Linked DNA regions of Homo sapiens. The protein of the gene in region 2 interacts with the protein of the main gene of each other region in a pairwise test. Each region holds a gene or a part of one and is shown on either strand. Other genes may lie near its edges.

Region 1 (7,028 bases), on a different chromosome or scaffold from region 2:
TAATCCAACAGAGACATTCAAAAGGAGAAGCACTGCTGTTTTGACACTTGCCATTTTATAAGATGTTGTGGGTACATATATATGCCTGTCTTTAATTACTCTCAAAATACTTCAAATATGACAGTGAAATAGAAAAGCATTTAATTTAATGATGAAGTATGGAAAATGAAGCTGAATTTTTAGGGTAACAACAACCTACTCTCTCTCATAAGTCTCTACCTTCAAAGATAAAAACCTAAGAGCTGGTCTCATTGAGAAGACCTCTGGGCTGAGAAATGAAGGAGCCCTGCAGCTGTGTAGGAAGACATTCCAGACAGACGGCAAGTACAAAGACCCCGAAGTGGGTGTGGGACAGGTGTGTTTGAGGAGTGGCAAGAAGCTGATGTGTCAACAGAGAGATGATGAGTGTGGAGCAGTAGGAAATGAGGTTGGGGAAAATGGGTGGGGGAATGGGACAGTCTGTGCAGAGCCTTAGAGGCCATGTGAGGAGGAGCTTAAATAGAGCAGTGCCACAACCAGGGATTTTAAAAGATGACTCTGCAATTAGCCAGGCAAGAGGTGATGGTGGTTCATATGAGTCAGTGCTAACTCGAAGGTTTTTGGCCTGAGACACTGGAAGGATATGTTGCCATCTGCGGGGAAAGAGAAAAGGAGTAGATTTGGGACATACTAGGTTTGAGATGTCTATTAGACATCTGAGAGGAAATCTTACATTTGCAGTTGGATAAGTAAGTCTGACCTTCAAGGGAGGGGCCTTGCCCAGTGATATCAATTTTAAGAAGCATCAATATATGGACAGTACAGGTGGTCCCTGACTTACAGTGGCTTGATTAATGATTTTTCAACCTTACAGTTGTTTGAAAGCGATAGAAACTATACTTCTAATTTTGAGTTTCGATCTTCTCCCAGGCTAGCGATATGCAGTACAACGCCAGGCAGAGAGCCACAACGCCCAGCCAGCCTCACCACAATGAGGTGAACAACCCATGCTCTCCAGTGCACTGTGCTGCCAGGTGACTGTTCCCAGCTGTAGGCTGATGTGAGTGTCCTAAGCATGTTTCAGGTAGGCTAGGCTGAGCTCGAATGTTCCATAGTTTAGGTGTATTAAATACATTTTCTATTTATGATATTTTCAACTCACAATGGGTTTATTCGTAAGGTAACCCCATAGTAAGTCAAGGGACATCTGTATTTAAGGCCATGGGATTCGACATGTTCACCAAGTGAATAAGTGTATCCTGAAAAGAGAAGAGGCCAAGGACAGAGGCCTGGAATGCCAGTTTTAAGAGGAGAAGAAAAGAGGAATAAACAGCAAAGATGACTGAGAGGAAGAGGCCAGAGAGGACATTCTATATCTAGAGAACGCCTCACTGTAAAGTTACAACTAGTGGCTCTTGTCTACATCTATGTGATTATATTAAGTCTGCTATCAGATAAAGACCACATATAAATTTGCTATAGATGCTGGGTAGGAATGTATTACTTTCAAATAACAAAACAAATGAAATTATAGATAGCAGAAGAAACAATGAGTTATAAAAATTAGCACTACCATTTAATCTTTTCAAATAAAAACATGGATAGATTTTTTTTTATTCAAAGAAATTTTTCTATAGAACTAAATATTCCTAGCAAAACAGAAACTTTTAAAGCAAAATAAAATAAAAGCATAAACATATACTTACCTCCAAAGATTTAAGGAATGGCAGTGACTCAATAAAGCTTTCATACATTTTTCTCTTTTTGGCATTGTTTTTCACAATTATTCTCCTGAAGGTTACCCTGTCCTACAGGCAGAACAGTTAAAGGGTAAATTTTATGGGGGTAAAGCTATACAAATAGTTTTATTTTATTCCCTACAAGAAACAATGATTGAAGATTCTGAAATAAAAGATTAACATCATTATACTTTTAATGCAACTCATTTCATATTTTTATTTCGTCAAGCACAAAATATAATACAGAACCACATAAAATACTGTTTTCTTTTTTTTTTTTTTTTTTTTTTTTAAAGAAAGCATCTGTTGACTTTTTATACATAACAGAAATCTGACCAATATGTTGGGTTCTGCCCACAAGGAGGCGCTGTCACAGCATTTTTAAATATGTATACTAGCACTCTGTTCTTTTACTCTGTTATGTACTCTACGTTCTTTTTCATATCCACATTATGTCAAAATTTTCTTGTCAAAAATGTGGAGGGATGCCCAAAGAAATTATAAATGCTTAAAGTGATGGCTACTCCATTTACCCTGATGTGATCATTATATATTGTATGCTGTTATCGAAATAGCTTATGTACCCTGTAAATATATACACATAATATGTACTCATAAAAAAAATTTTTATTTAATGTGAAGGCACAGAGAAACTACAACTATGTTTTTGAGTAAGATCTAATTCCAGTGTTTACCATGTTCACAGTCTAAAATGTTCCTGTTTATACTATCATGCCCTCAAAGATACAGAACTCGGTTGAAGAACTAGTAAAAATTTTAAGGATACAGCTCAAAACATTATTTTCCTAAAAATTTTATTTTAAATAATTTCTCATAAAATATTTTAATTCTTTAATAAAAGCCTCAATAATTATGTTAGATTGGCATTCATTAATAAACAATTATACCATTTTAATAAAGTAAAAATTGGGATATATTATTTAATAAATTACTATGCCAATATTTTAATTTTTTTTTACTTTTATTTTTAATTTTTGTGGGTACATAGTAGGTGTATATTTATGGGGTACATGAGATGTTCTGATACAGGCATGCAACATGAAATATGCACATCATAGAGAATGGGGTATCTGCCCCCTCAAGCATCTATCCTTTGAGTTACAAAAAATCCAATTACATTTATTTTAAAATATACAATTTTATTATTGACTATGGTCACCCTATTGTGCTACCAAATACTAGGTCTTATTCATTCTTTCTTATGCCAACATAATAAGGCTGAATTTAAATGAACTAGTGCAATGGAGAAAAATGCCAGTATAGATGAAAGTCTCTAGGTGTGATGGACTGCAACTGAATGTTTCTATCACTCTAAAATCCCTCTGTTGAAATCCTAATCACCCAGGATAGTATTAGGTGGTGGAGCCTTTGGAAGATGGTTAGGTCATGAGGCTGGAGCCCTCATGAATGGGATTAATGTCCTTATAAAAGAGATCCCAATGAGCTCCCTTGCCCCTTCCACCATGTGAGAACACAAGTAGAAGACGCTGTCTGTTAAACAGGAAAACAAGCCCTCACCAGACACCGAATCTTCTGGTGCCTTGATCTTGGACTTCTCAGCGTCCAGACCATGAGAAATAAATGTATGCTGCTTAAGCCACCCATTCTATAACAGTCTGTCATAGCACCCCAAAAGGACTAAGACACTAGGAAATTAAACATCTTGTTTCCCAATTTGGTATTGGCTGTAATTTGGACTTGTTTTACTCCTAATACTTTTTTTAAAAGAAAATTTTACAAGATAATTAGCACAAATATTGAAATTATTTCCAAGCCTGGCTCTGCATCAGAATAAGCTATAGTATTAAAAAAGATTTCTGAGACACCAGACCTTAATGACTCAAGATCTCTGCATGTAGGGCTCAATAATTCATAAATGCTCCCAAAGTGATTCTGATATGTAATCAGGTTTGGAAATCAGGTATAACACCATTGTATGGACAGCGGTTATTGCAAAACAGAGAAGACTCAAAATAGCTTAATGATTTAGAAACTAATCATAATCAGTTATATCTCTCAGAAAGAATTTTCCATTAGTAACCTACCTCTTCACACCCACTGTGACATATAAAGTCCAGAATTTCAAATACTTTCATCCTGAAGCCATTTCAAAAATCACCTTTCCAAATCATCAGTATAGTCACGTAGATCATGTTAGCCCTAAGGCTAATAGTGACCAAATATTATTTACAGAGTGAGACTATTCTGCAATGGACTTTTCTCTTGGGCTTTTTTTGCTTATCTTTACACACCTGTATTTATAAGGCAGACCTCCAGTCTGTTGACCTTAAAAGAAAAATTTATTTTCTACTCGACTCTCCCTGAGAAGGAGTTATTATAATTAGTCAAGTCACCCTTAAAAAGTAGGCTTGAAATACTAAGTAATTATGTTAATTATTCTAACTTTTTTAGAAAGCTATTATATGTCAGGAGGATTATCACAAACTGCCCATTTTTATAAAATTTAATAACATGTATAGACTACTAAAAAGCTCTGAAAATGCTTAATCCTATCTTAGGAACTTAAGTAGTACGTGCACTAGGAAATTCTGGGTCTTTTATACCCCATTAAAGTTTCTACAAGGGCTAAAAACTATCAGTATTCAAAGAGGCCAACCTATAAAACAGTTGATCTTATTCTGAAGATGTGCAAGGAGGCAGTTTCCTCACTGTGTGACAATCTGACAATCTGAATCTGAACGGCAACCCCATTGGAATGACTACATTTGAAAAGTAAACCTTCCTGAATAAAACAGGTCATGGCAGATGCTAGATTTATCCCACCACTTTAATTACAGGCAGACAAAGACTTCTGTGGGTGAAGGACTGTCCTGGTTTGAAGTTTTTTCTTTGCTGGCTTTGGGTATTCAAATCACTGACAGTTCTTTCCTTTTCCTGAGACAATTCAGCTTTTCCTCTAAACCTTAAAAAAGTGACTCATCACATTTTTAAATAAGTATATAATAACTGGTTCCAATTAAAAGAAATGTAAAATGTCTTGTCTCTTTGATCAAGAGATATTTTTTATCAGCTGAATTGACTTCAGAGTCAAATGCTGAACTGTGACTAAATAATGTGTGACTTCCACAATGCTATATACAGTAGTCCTTGGAAATGAGACTTTTAACAGACTTCATATTTACTTCAACCTCTTCTCTTTCCACAAAAGGATTTGAGAGAAATAACCCAATAAATGCATGTCAAAACTAGTGGGTGGGCTATTTTCAACAATTTTAAAAGAAAATACATATACTGTAAACATTTCCCTAAATCGATGCTGTTTAAGGTTTGGCCTGACATCAGGCAGTACTGCCATCTCCTGGGAGCTGATGAGAAATGCAAAAATCACGGGCCTCACCCCAGAACCACTGAATCAGAATCTGCATTTTAACTGGATTCCCAGGTGATTTGTAAGCATATTAAAGTTTGAGAATCACTACCTTAAATACAATCCTCCAGAAGGAGCTTTAGTAGTGCCTAATAATTTGCATCCTATCATATGTGAAAATATTGCCCGAATGTATCTTTAAACCAGCTTTTAAGTCTTGCGGGAATACCACATTAAGAAATGTATTTAAAAGTACTAATGCTCAGGTCCCAGTGCTGAAGATTCTGATCAATTTGCCCATGGTGAGGTCTAGGTAAGAGGATTTTTTTTGAGACAGAGTCTCGCTCTGTCGCCCAGGCTGGAGTGCAGTGGTGCAATCTCAGCTTCACTGCAAGCTCCGCCTCCCGGGTTCATGCCATTCTCCTGCCTCAGCCTCCTGAGTAGCTGGGACTACAGGCACCCACGACCGTGCCCGGCTAATTTTTTGTATTTTTAGTAGAGACGGGGTTTCACCGTGGTCTCGATCTCCTGACCTCGTGGCTAGGTAAGAGGATTTTAAAAAAATACTCCAGGTAATTCTGATGTGGGGCACATGAGCACAGCCACCAAGCATTTTTTCCCTACACAACTGCTTTTAAATGCAGAGTAGTTACCAATCAATTTATAGCACCAAGAGCATCCTTTTATACTGGTTTCTCAAACTCCGAATTTCTGATGCAGTAGGTCAGAATCAGTGGGTGGGGCCCCAGAATGGGCATTTCTAAAAAGTTCCCAAGTGATACAGCTGCCAGTGTTCAGGGGACCACACTCTGGGAGCCACAACTTTATCAGATTATAATACTTACCTCAGAAAGCTATCTGAGAAAAAGTACTTAAGGCTGTGTTTGTATGGCTGGTTATTTTCTAAGAGTGGGTAAGACAGGAGCATTCTGAATCTGAGTGTCTTTCCTGGGCCACCAGGTCCCAAGCTCCTGACTGGACTGGAGGAGTGGGGGCAATGACATCAGGATCTGACTTAGTGAAGTCTTAGTGCCCTACAGTTCAGCATTCAGTGGCTGCTTAATAAATTACCTGATGACTGATGATCTTTAAATTAAAATACTACATGCGGCAATTTGTAACACCGTCATAGCAATTGCTACAAATCATAACATTCAGGTCAAATAAGTATTTTACTCACCAAACCCCACAGAGCACCAGGAGAGGTAGCAGTGATTGTAGCTGCTCTGGGTGTATTGTACATTAAGGCCAGTTCGCCGAAACTCCCACGATTATCATAGTTACCAACACATCTTCCAACACCATCACATTTCACATAAATATCAAATGTGCCTCTGTTGGACATATGTAGATTGGAGGTTAATTCAAATAAAATATCATTAAAATAAAACATTATTTCAGAAAAGAGCCCTGTGAAATAAAAATCTTATTTCCAGCCTGTTATCCCCTCCGATGACAATAAAGGGGAATCAATCTGTGCCATCTGTTCCAGACCATGTGCCTGCTGGGAAAAATGGGACTAAACAATAAAAATTTGGAATAAGGAATGATAAAACTATAACTAAAGACTACAACCAAATAGTATATGCATAAAAAACCATCTGGAGAGGCCGGGTCTCACACCTGTAATCACAGCACTTTGGGAGGCTGAGGCGGGTGGATCACCTGAGGTTAGGAGTTTGAGACCAGCCTGGCCAACATGGTGAAACCCTGTCTCTATTAAAAATACAAAATATTAGCCGGGTGTGATGGCGGGATCCCATAATCTCAGCTACTCGGGAGGCTGAGGCAGGAGAATCACTTGAACCTGGGAGACGGAGGTTGCAGTGAGCCGAGATTGTGCCACTGCACTCCAGCCTGGGTGACAAGAGCAAAACTCCAACTCAAAAAAAAAAAAAAAAAAAAAAATCATCTGAAGAGGCTGGGTGTGGTGGCTTACTTACATCTGTAATTCCAGCAAT
Region 2 (7,028 bases):
TTCATTTTATGAAGATGTCAGTACCCAGTTCACTCTCTCTCACCAATACCATTACTGTTGTAATAAAACAGTACTGGTGGTTTCAAAGTCTGTAGCAGATAATCCCACTAAAATAACCTGGCCTCTCAGCTCCTTGACCAAATTTTCTGCGATCTTATTCTTTCTTCATTTTTATTTTAAAAACAGAGATGGGGTCTCGCTGTTGCCCAGGCTGGTCTCAAACTCCTGGCCTCAAGCAATCCTCCCACCTCAGCCTCCCAAAGTGCTGGAATTACAGGTGTGACCCACCATGTCTGGCCTTATCCTTTCTTTACTACCTCGGAAGTCAACTCCATGACAACACCTTTACCTTTTCATTACTAACTGCATTGCTTCCATAATCTCAATTTCAAGTAGAGATACTAATCAACTTACGATGGGGTTACTTCCTGATAAATGTTCTGTAAGTTGAAAATACCCTAAGCTGAAAATGCATCAAACACATCTAACCTACCAAACACCATGGCTTAGCCTAGCCTACTTTAAATGTGCTCAGAACACGTACACTGATCTACAGTTCAGCAAAACCATCTAACACAAAGCCTATTTTATAATAAAGTGTTAAATATTTCATATGATTTATTGAATACTATACTGAAAGTGAAAAACAGAATGGTTGTACAGGTACTAGAAATATTTCTATTGAATATTTCTATTGAATGTGTATTGCTTTTGCACCATCGTAAAGTCGAACAATTTTAAGTTGTTCTAAGTCAGGGACTGTCTGTATTCACCTTCTATTACTCCGTCCAGTACCCTGATTCCAACAAATCTTTGACCCCACTGAGATCTACAACCCACTAATGTTACCACCTTTTTTCACTGCCCTTCAGCCTCCCTCATATCCTTCTTCCTGTAACTTAACCACCTTAGATCCCATGGTCCACCATTATAATCACTCCTTTGACTATATCCTCAATTCTCTTGTCCCCCACTTCCCTCTTTTGTACTCACCTAGCAAAACTCCAAATGGGCAAAAATTCAACTCTTTCAGCAGCTAACCTTGAGTGGGCCCTTAATACTGCCTGGCAATACTCTCACACTGCCTGAATCCATCCATTTCATGCCTTTTCCTAGAACCTCTTCCCCCTTCCTCATCTCCATGATGACTTTGCTCCCTGTATTAGACAATATGAAATTGATATAATGAGTACATACACATTTTCCCTCCCTCACCTCATCTATAAACCTTCTATAACTCCACTTTATCTCCTGTTACTAGGATGAGCATCTGTGCTCCTATGCTATCCTAATCCACCTATTTTTATACTGAATCCCAATTCTTTTAATGTGGTGAATGCCACAACACAGATTTTGCCTCAATCTAAGAAGCACTTTGTAACAACTACAGCTGTCAAAAAATGAAATAAATCATATCACAAAGTAACAGCCATTCCTTTGATTAAACAGATTTCTACAGTAACTGGAAGTAACTCCAGATAAACAATGAGCACTCTCTCAGCTTTAAAATTCAATGGTTTTAGAATATATAAAGTTATAAATATTCTTGTATAAGTTATAGTATTAACTGGAATGTACATACTTTTCTCACCCTTGGCAACCCTTGTTAAATTCCTCAAGGGATAGGTAAGTCTTTGGGGAAGGAATAACAATGGAATGGAAGAATGATAGACTGCCATTTTCCACTACTTTTTAGAAATGTGTCTAGCCCTTTTGTTTTCATTCTCATACTGTTCTCTTTCTAGAACTGCCACCTTGGAAACTCTCCTGGGAATATCTAACAGAAATGCATCTCTTAAGAATAAGTGTGTAACATAGTTCTCATAATAACCTTAATTAGGTACTGTATATAATTAGATCATGGAATTTGAGCAATAGAATATTTACTAATTGTGTTTGACCTTTTTATTATTTAAACAACTTTCTTCTGCAATTAACTTAGAAGAAAGGGGCATTAAAATGAAAAAAGGAAGCTGAGTAAGTAGAAAAGATCACAAACTTATTTACTTATTGCTGAGACAACTCAGCAGGTTGAATATATTTACCTTTAACAATCTTCTTTGCACAGTCATTATACACTTGCTCTTGAGATGTGCTTGACTGGAACACCCGATCAAATGCATAAGGCTTGGACTGAAAAACAAAAAAGTGTTTCAACTATACAAATTAAAGGTAAATGAACATTTCTAACCTTTACAGATGCCATCATATAATATATTTAATCCTCAAAATAGTATACCTAGTATGCATAATTTGGTATCATTGAATCTTTGAAGTAGAAGGGATCACCATGCACAAATCCATTAGAATAAACTCCAGGAAAACAAGAATGGTCTTTAGTCTTTGCTGCATTCCCAGGGCCCAGTAATTACAATTATAATTCCCAGTAATTATAATTAGCACTACTATGGCAGCCAAATATTGCTGAGTGATTTTTATTTTTTTAAATACCTATTTATTTATTTTTGAGACAGGGTCTCGGTTCTGTCACCCAGGCTGGAGTGCAGTGGCACAATCACTGCTTACTGCAGCCTCAACCTCCTGGGCTCAAGAAATCCTCCCACCTTAGCCTCCTGAGCAGCTGGGACTAGAGGCATGTGCCACCATGCTATGTTGCCCAGGCTTGTCTTGAACTTCTGGGCTCAAGAGATCCTCCTGCCTCAGCCTCCCCAAGTGCTCGGATTACAGGTGTGAACCACCATGCCTGTCCTGCAACAGCTTTTCAACCATTCTTTCATTTAACAAATACTTATGGAATGTGAGATGACATGCTAGAATGATAACCAAGAGATTCCCTCTCTGCTTTAGTGGAGCATAAATAATAGTGGGGCAGACATTAAAAAATTAAGTGACCAGAATTCTGACTCATGCAATTGAGTGCTATGAAAGTGCAATGAGAGAATATAGGAGGAGAACCTAAGTCTACGGGAAAGCAGAATATCACGGAAACACCCTTGGAGAAAGAATATTTAAGAACTGAAAAATACGCAGCAACTAACTCATCATCACTCTCCCCAGTATTAGTCATGAAGGGTGAAAAAGGTTTCGTGTAGGAAAGTAGTCTAGGCACTGGGAGGATACTTAAAGATCCTAAGGCAGAAAGAACAGTGTAGCATTCAAGAAACCAATGGAAGTTGTTAAGTTGAAGTACAAGGAGCAAGGATCAAATGCAAATATCAAAACGGTTAAAAAGACATCATCTTATTCTGAAAACAGCTTTGATCTTCTGGACCCCAGAAATGATACTGGGGACTCCATGGACCACTCTCAGAGAACCACTAATATAGTCTGAGAAGGAGCCAGGGGTATTGAACAAAAAAAAAAAATCAGTGGTGTCCATGCAAGTCAAAAAATAATAATTTTCAAGGAGGGAGTGATTATGTCAAATACAGTTGTGAGGCCAAGACAAAACTAAAAAGTACTCAATGACAAAGGTCAGATTGGAATGGATTGAAAAAGAATGGGAGGTAACCAAGTGGTGCAGAAAATCTGCTGTATGTCTAAGAAAGTTATTTTTTTTTTAAGACTTGTAAGACCTGAGGTAGTTTAAATGCTTGCAGGAACAATTTTAATAATCTAGGAGAAAGAGTAGGTATCCAAAAATAAGAGGCAAGGGGTTCTAGGTATTTGCAAGTATCTGCCTGCTCTCTAGTTTCTCCTAAAGGAAAGGAAGGAAGTTGGGCCCTAAAACACAAAACAATCATGACCCCAGAAAAAGCCCTTAACATTAGAAAACACTTCCTAAGTCTTAGCTGAAAAAGACCTACTACCCTCCACATCCCCACTTCAAAGTCTGAAATAAAAGTAACAATGAACCAGACACTCCTAAAGCCATTCCCAATTCCCCTTTCCCTTGCTACCTCCCAATAAATAGGCCGGAAAGCCAAATACCTGTTAGCCTAGTCTCCCTGCAACTAGTAGTCACATGACCAAGCTCTGAATAATATGAAGTGGCGGTCTGTTCGAGGTCTCTGAGAAGGGTGTTGTTATCCTGATAAAAAGGACCATCTCAGCTAAAACTGCCCTTTCTCCTTCCTGGAATGAATGCCTGGAGCTGTAGCATCCATCTTGCAAATACGACAAACAGGATGATGAAAAGCAACAGCTAAGGACGACAAAGTATAACAGAGTGAGGAACCGTGAAGGGCCTATATCCAGGCTTTTTGTTATGTGAGAAAAACATCCTCTTATTTATTTAAGCCACTATTAGCTGTTGGTTTTTCCTCTAAAGCTGAAAGCATTACTGACAGATACAAGAAGCTGATCTCACTTTGGCATCAATTTAAAATAGGCATCGATGTCTGATTATTCTTTAGTTGTGACATATGTGAACGTATCCTTTTCTCAGATGCTACTGAAACAATTAACATTCAATTCTACAGGTGTGACTAAAAGAAATCTATTATTTTACTGCTGACACAAGATATATTCATGGTGAACAATTCTGAAAACAAACGTTAAGTACAATCAAAATAACAATCGCCACCCAAAAACAAACCATACTAATAGTTTTTTCTATGCAAAAAGAAAGTAATTTTCCCTCATTTATCCAGCAGACATTCATTTAGTGACTATAAAGATATGAGATATTGTAGATGAGTAACACAATTTTAGAAATAATTAGTACAGACTGTAGGGTTCAAAGAGTAATAGAGGATAAGGCCAGATAAAAACCTGAATACTAAGTTAAGTTATACACTTGGATCTAATATAAGTGATCAAGTAATGTCAAGAGAATTTTATATGTATCTACAAATATACTCCTGAGTAGCTGGGACCACAGGCATGTGCCACCACGCCTGGCTAATTTTTGTATTTTTAGTAGAGATGAGGTTTTGCCATGTTGGCCAGGCTGGTCTCAAACTCCTGACCTCCAGTGATCCACCTGCCTCAGCCTCCCAAAGTGCTGGGATTACAGGCGTGATCCACCATGCCTGGCCTCAATTTTTACATCAATAGAAAATAGTGCCCCTAAACCATTTACCAAGAGATATGCCAGAAATAATGTAAACAGCTTCATAATAGTAAACAGTTTTAATAGTAAAGCCTGCCTTCAGAAGTACTTTATGAAGCTGCTTACTCTAGTTATCAACTCCAAGCAAATATATAAACTACCACTACAACCTTACTAAAATAATATAAATGGCAACTATTAAAAGGTAACACACAAACATAAAAATAATTGAGACTGGAGTGATTATCTTTCTAGAAGTTATTGTTAAATAAAAATTAAGTGCTTAGCATTAAGTTGACAAAACAGTCTTATCTTGATTGCAAAACCAAATGATGATTTTGTAATACTAAGTAAGGCAAATGTTTTAATTAAAGATCTAGCCATAAATTACTGACTCTGGCTTCCTGGAATGAAAATCAAGACTCTGTGAAACACAAAAATTATTTCTAATGGTCTATAATTAAGGCATATCTCTATTTTTCAAATAAATTAAAGAAAAACTCATCTGGACATCTGTATTTTTCAAACCTGGTTTTTAGCCTCGAAATGTACATTATGCAGCTTTTAATCCCATGTGTCTTCAAAGATCCCCCAAGTTTCAGATTTCAATATTACTAGTAACTCCAAGTCACAAGATGCATTCACGTCTGATTGATGCTTTAAGGGGACAAATCAAAAAGGAATAAGTTGATCTCAACTGCATACCTTAGGTTCCTTAAGGGAAGTGATTCCTGTTTGAGTATGCACCGACCAGACTGAAGACCAAATTTGGTTATGAAGGACACCCTTCTGGCAGGGATATGTCTTTCTCTGGAATTCTGAATAGCGGATCATTTCAGATCACTTGGGAGTGTATTATATTAGATTTTCCTTAGTTAAACACTATAGTGGGCTAACATTCCACAACTGTAAAGGTATGTGATGATGGTTCCCTCCTCTCCTTCATTTTTCCCTCTTAAGGTAATCAAGAAGGTTCAAACACCAAATCATTCACTTGAAAAGCGAGAATGTTGTTTTGCTTAGGCAAGGAACTGGGCAAGATTATCTAATTAGTTTTATTCTCTTCTAATTTCTCGGAACTACCACAGCTTGTTTTTGGCAGCCTTTACGGTGTACCATATAAGGAATAATGATTTGTAAAGATACTTAATGATGCAAATAACCATATTCTACTTTCATGATTCATAAATAGATAGATGTAATTTTTTTATTGATTTTTCTTCCTGGTGTTTTTAGCAAGCTCCTAATTTTTTCTACTGATTTTTTTCTGGTGTTTCCAGCAAGCTCATTTCAAAGACATAAACTGTTTCCCTGTCCTCCTTGCTTTGCGGTAACAAGTTCTCTAATTTAAAGCAAATAGTTTATATGTATATCGCTTAAAGACTTTCATAAAATAATTCATTTCATTCGATGTTACATTTATAGCACTTCACCAAGCACTTAATTAAAAATAAATTCTGTATTAAAGGCTGTACAGCATACACAGAAACACTATGAAAGATTTGCCTGCCATGGTGTCATATTAAAATCACTGATTACATGAGTAGCAGGAAAAAAGTTTAGACAAAGTATTAAAAACTCAAGTTATAAGAAAATCAGAATCCTTAAAAATTACTTTCTCCATGAGCACTGATTATGCTTCTAACATCATAAACTACAATATTCTTTCAATTTTGATCTAAATAGAAGATTGTATACAAAATGTTCTTAAATCATGTTTTTAAAAATTTAGTTTTAAATGCTGCATTGCAGCAATTCTCTCCTAAACTGTTCATTATGAATCAGGATTAGGAACCAGTAAAATGAAAAAACCAAACCGAGAAGATTTTACCCACAGATTTTCCAATTCCGCTCCTCCTGGCTGCTCTTATAACCTTTTACAAAATGAAATAATTCATTTAAAAAACTGAACAAAAATATGAGACCTCAATAATTAATGTCGTTACTATATGCAAGAAACTAGTTTCTGAAAACAATGAACCAAAACATGTTGCCTTTCATTTTTTAAGGCTATGTTATTCAGTTGTAATGTATTTTTGGTTACACGTTAAAAAAAAAAAAAAAAAACCAGGCC

Evidence for each region. The genes of interacting proteins can lie anywhere in the genome.
Region 1: the proteins of KIF5B (region 2) and PRKAR2B interact in binary tests that used the Homo sapiens proteins (3 or more experiments, as listed by UniProt).

The regions. Positions count from the first base shown.
Region 1 is NC_000007.14:107,145,681-107,152,708, reverse strand, and holds part of PRKAR2B (cAMP-dependent protein kinase type II-beta regulatory subunit), read right to left. Parts: intron 6,402-7,028; coding exon 6,248-6,401; intron 1,788-6,247; coding exon 1,686-1,787; intron 1-1,685. UniProt on the Homo sapiens protein: Regulatory subunit of the cAMP-dependent protein kinases involved in cAMP signaling in cells. Type II regulatory chains mediate membrane association by binding to anchoring proteins, including the MAP2 kinase.
Region 2 is NC_000010.11:32,046,419-32,053,446, forward strand, and holds part of KIF5B (kinesin-1 heavy chain), read right to left. Parts: intron 4,106-7,028; exon of another isoform or gene 3,892-4,105; intron 2,134-3,891; coding exon 2,046-2,133; intron 1-2,045. UniProt on the Homo sapiens protein: Microtubule-dependent motor required for normal distribution of mitochondria and lysosomes. Can induce formation of neurite-like membrane protrusions in non-neuronal cells in a ZFYVE27-dependent manner.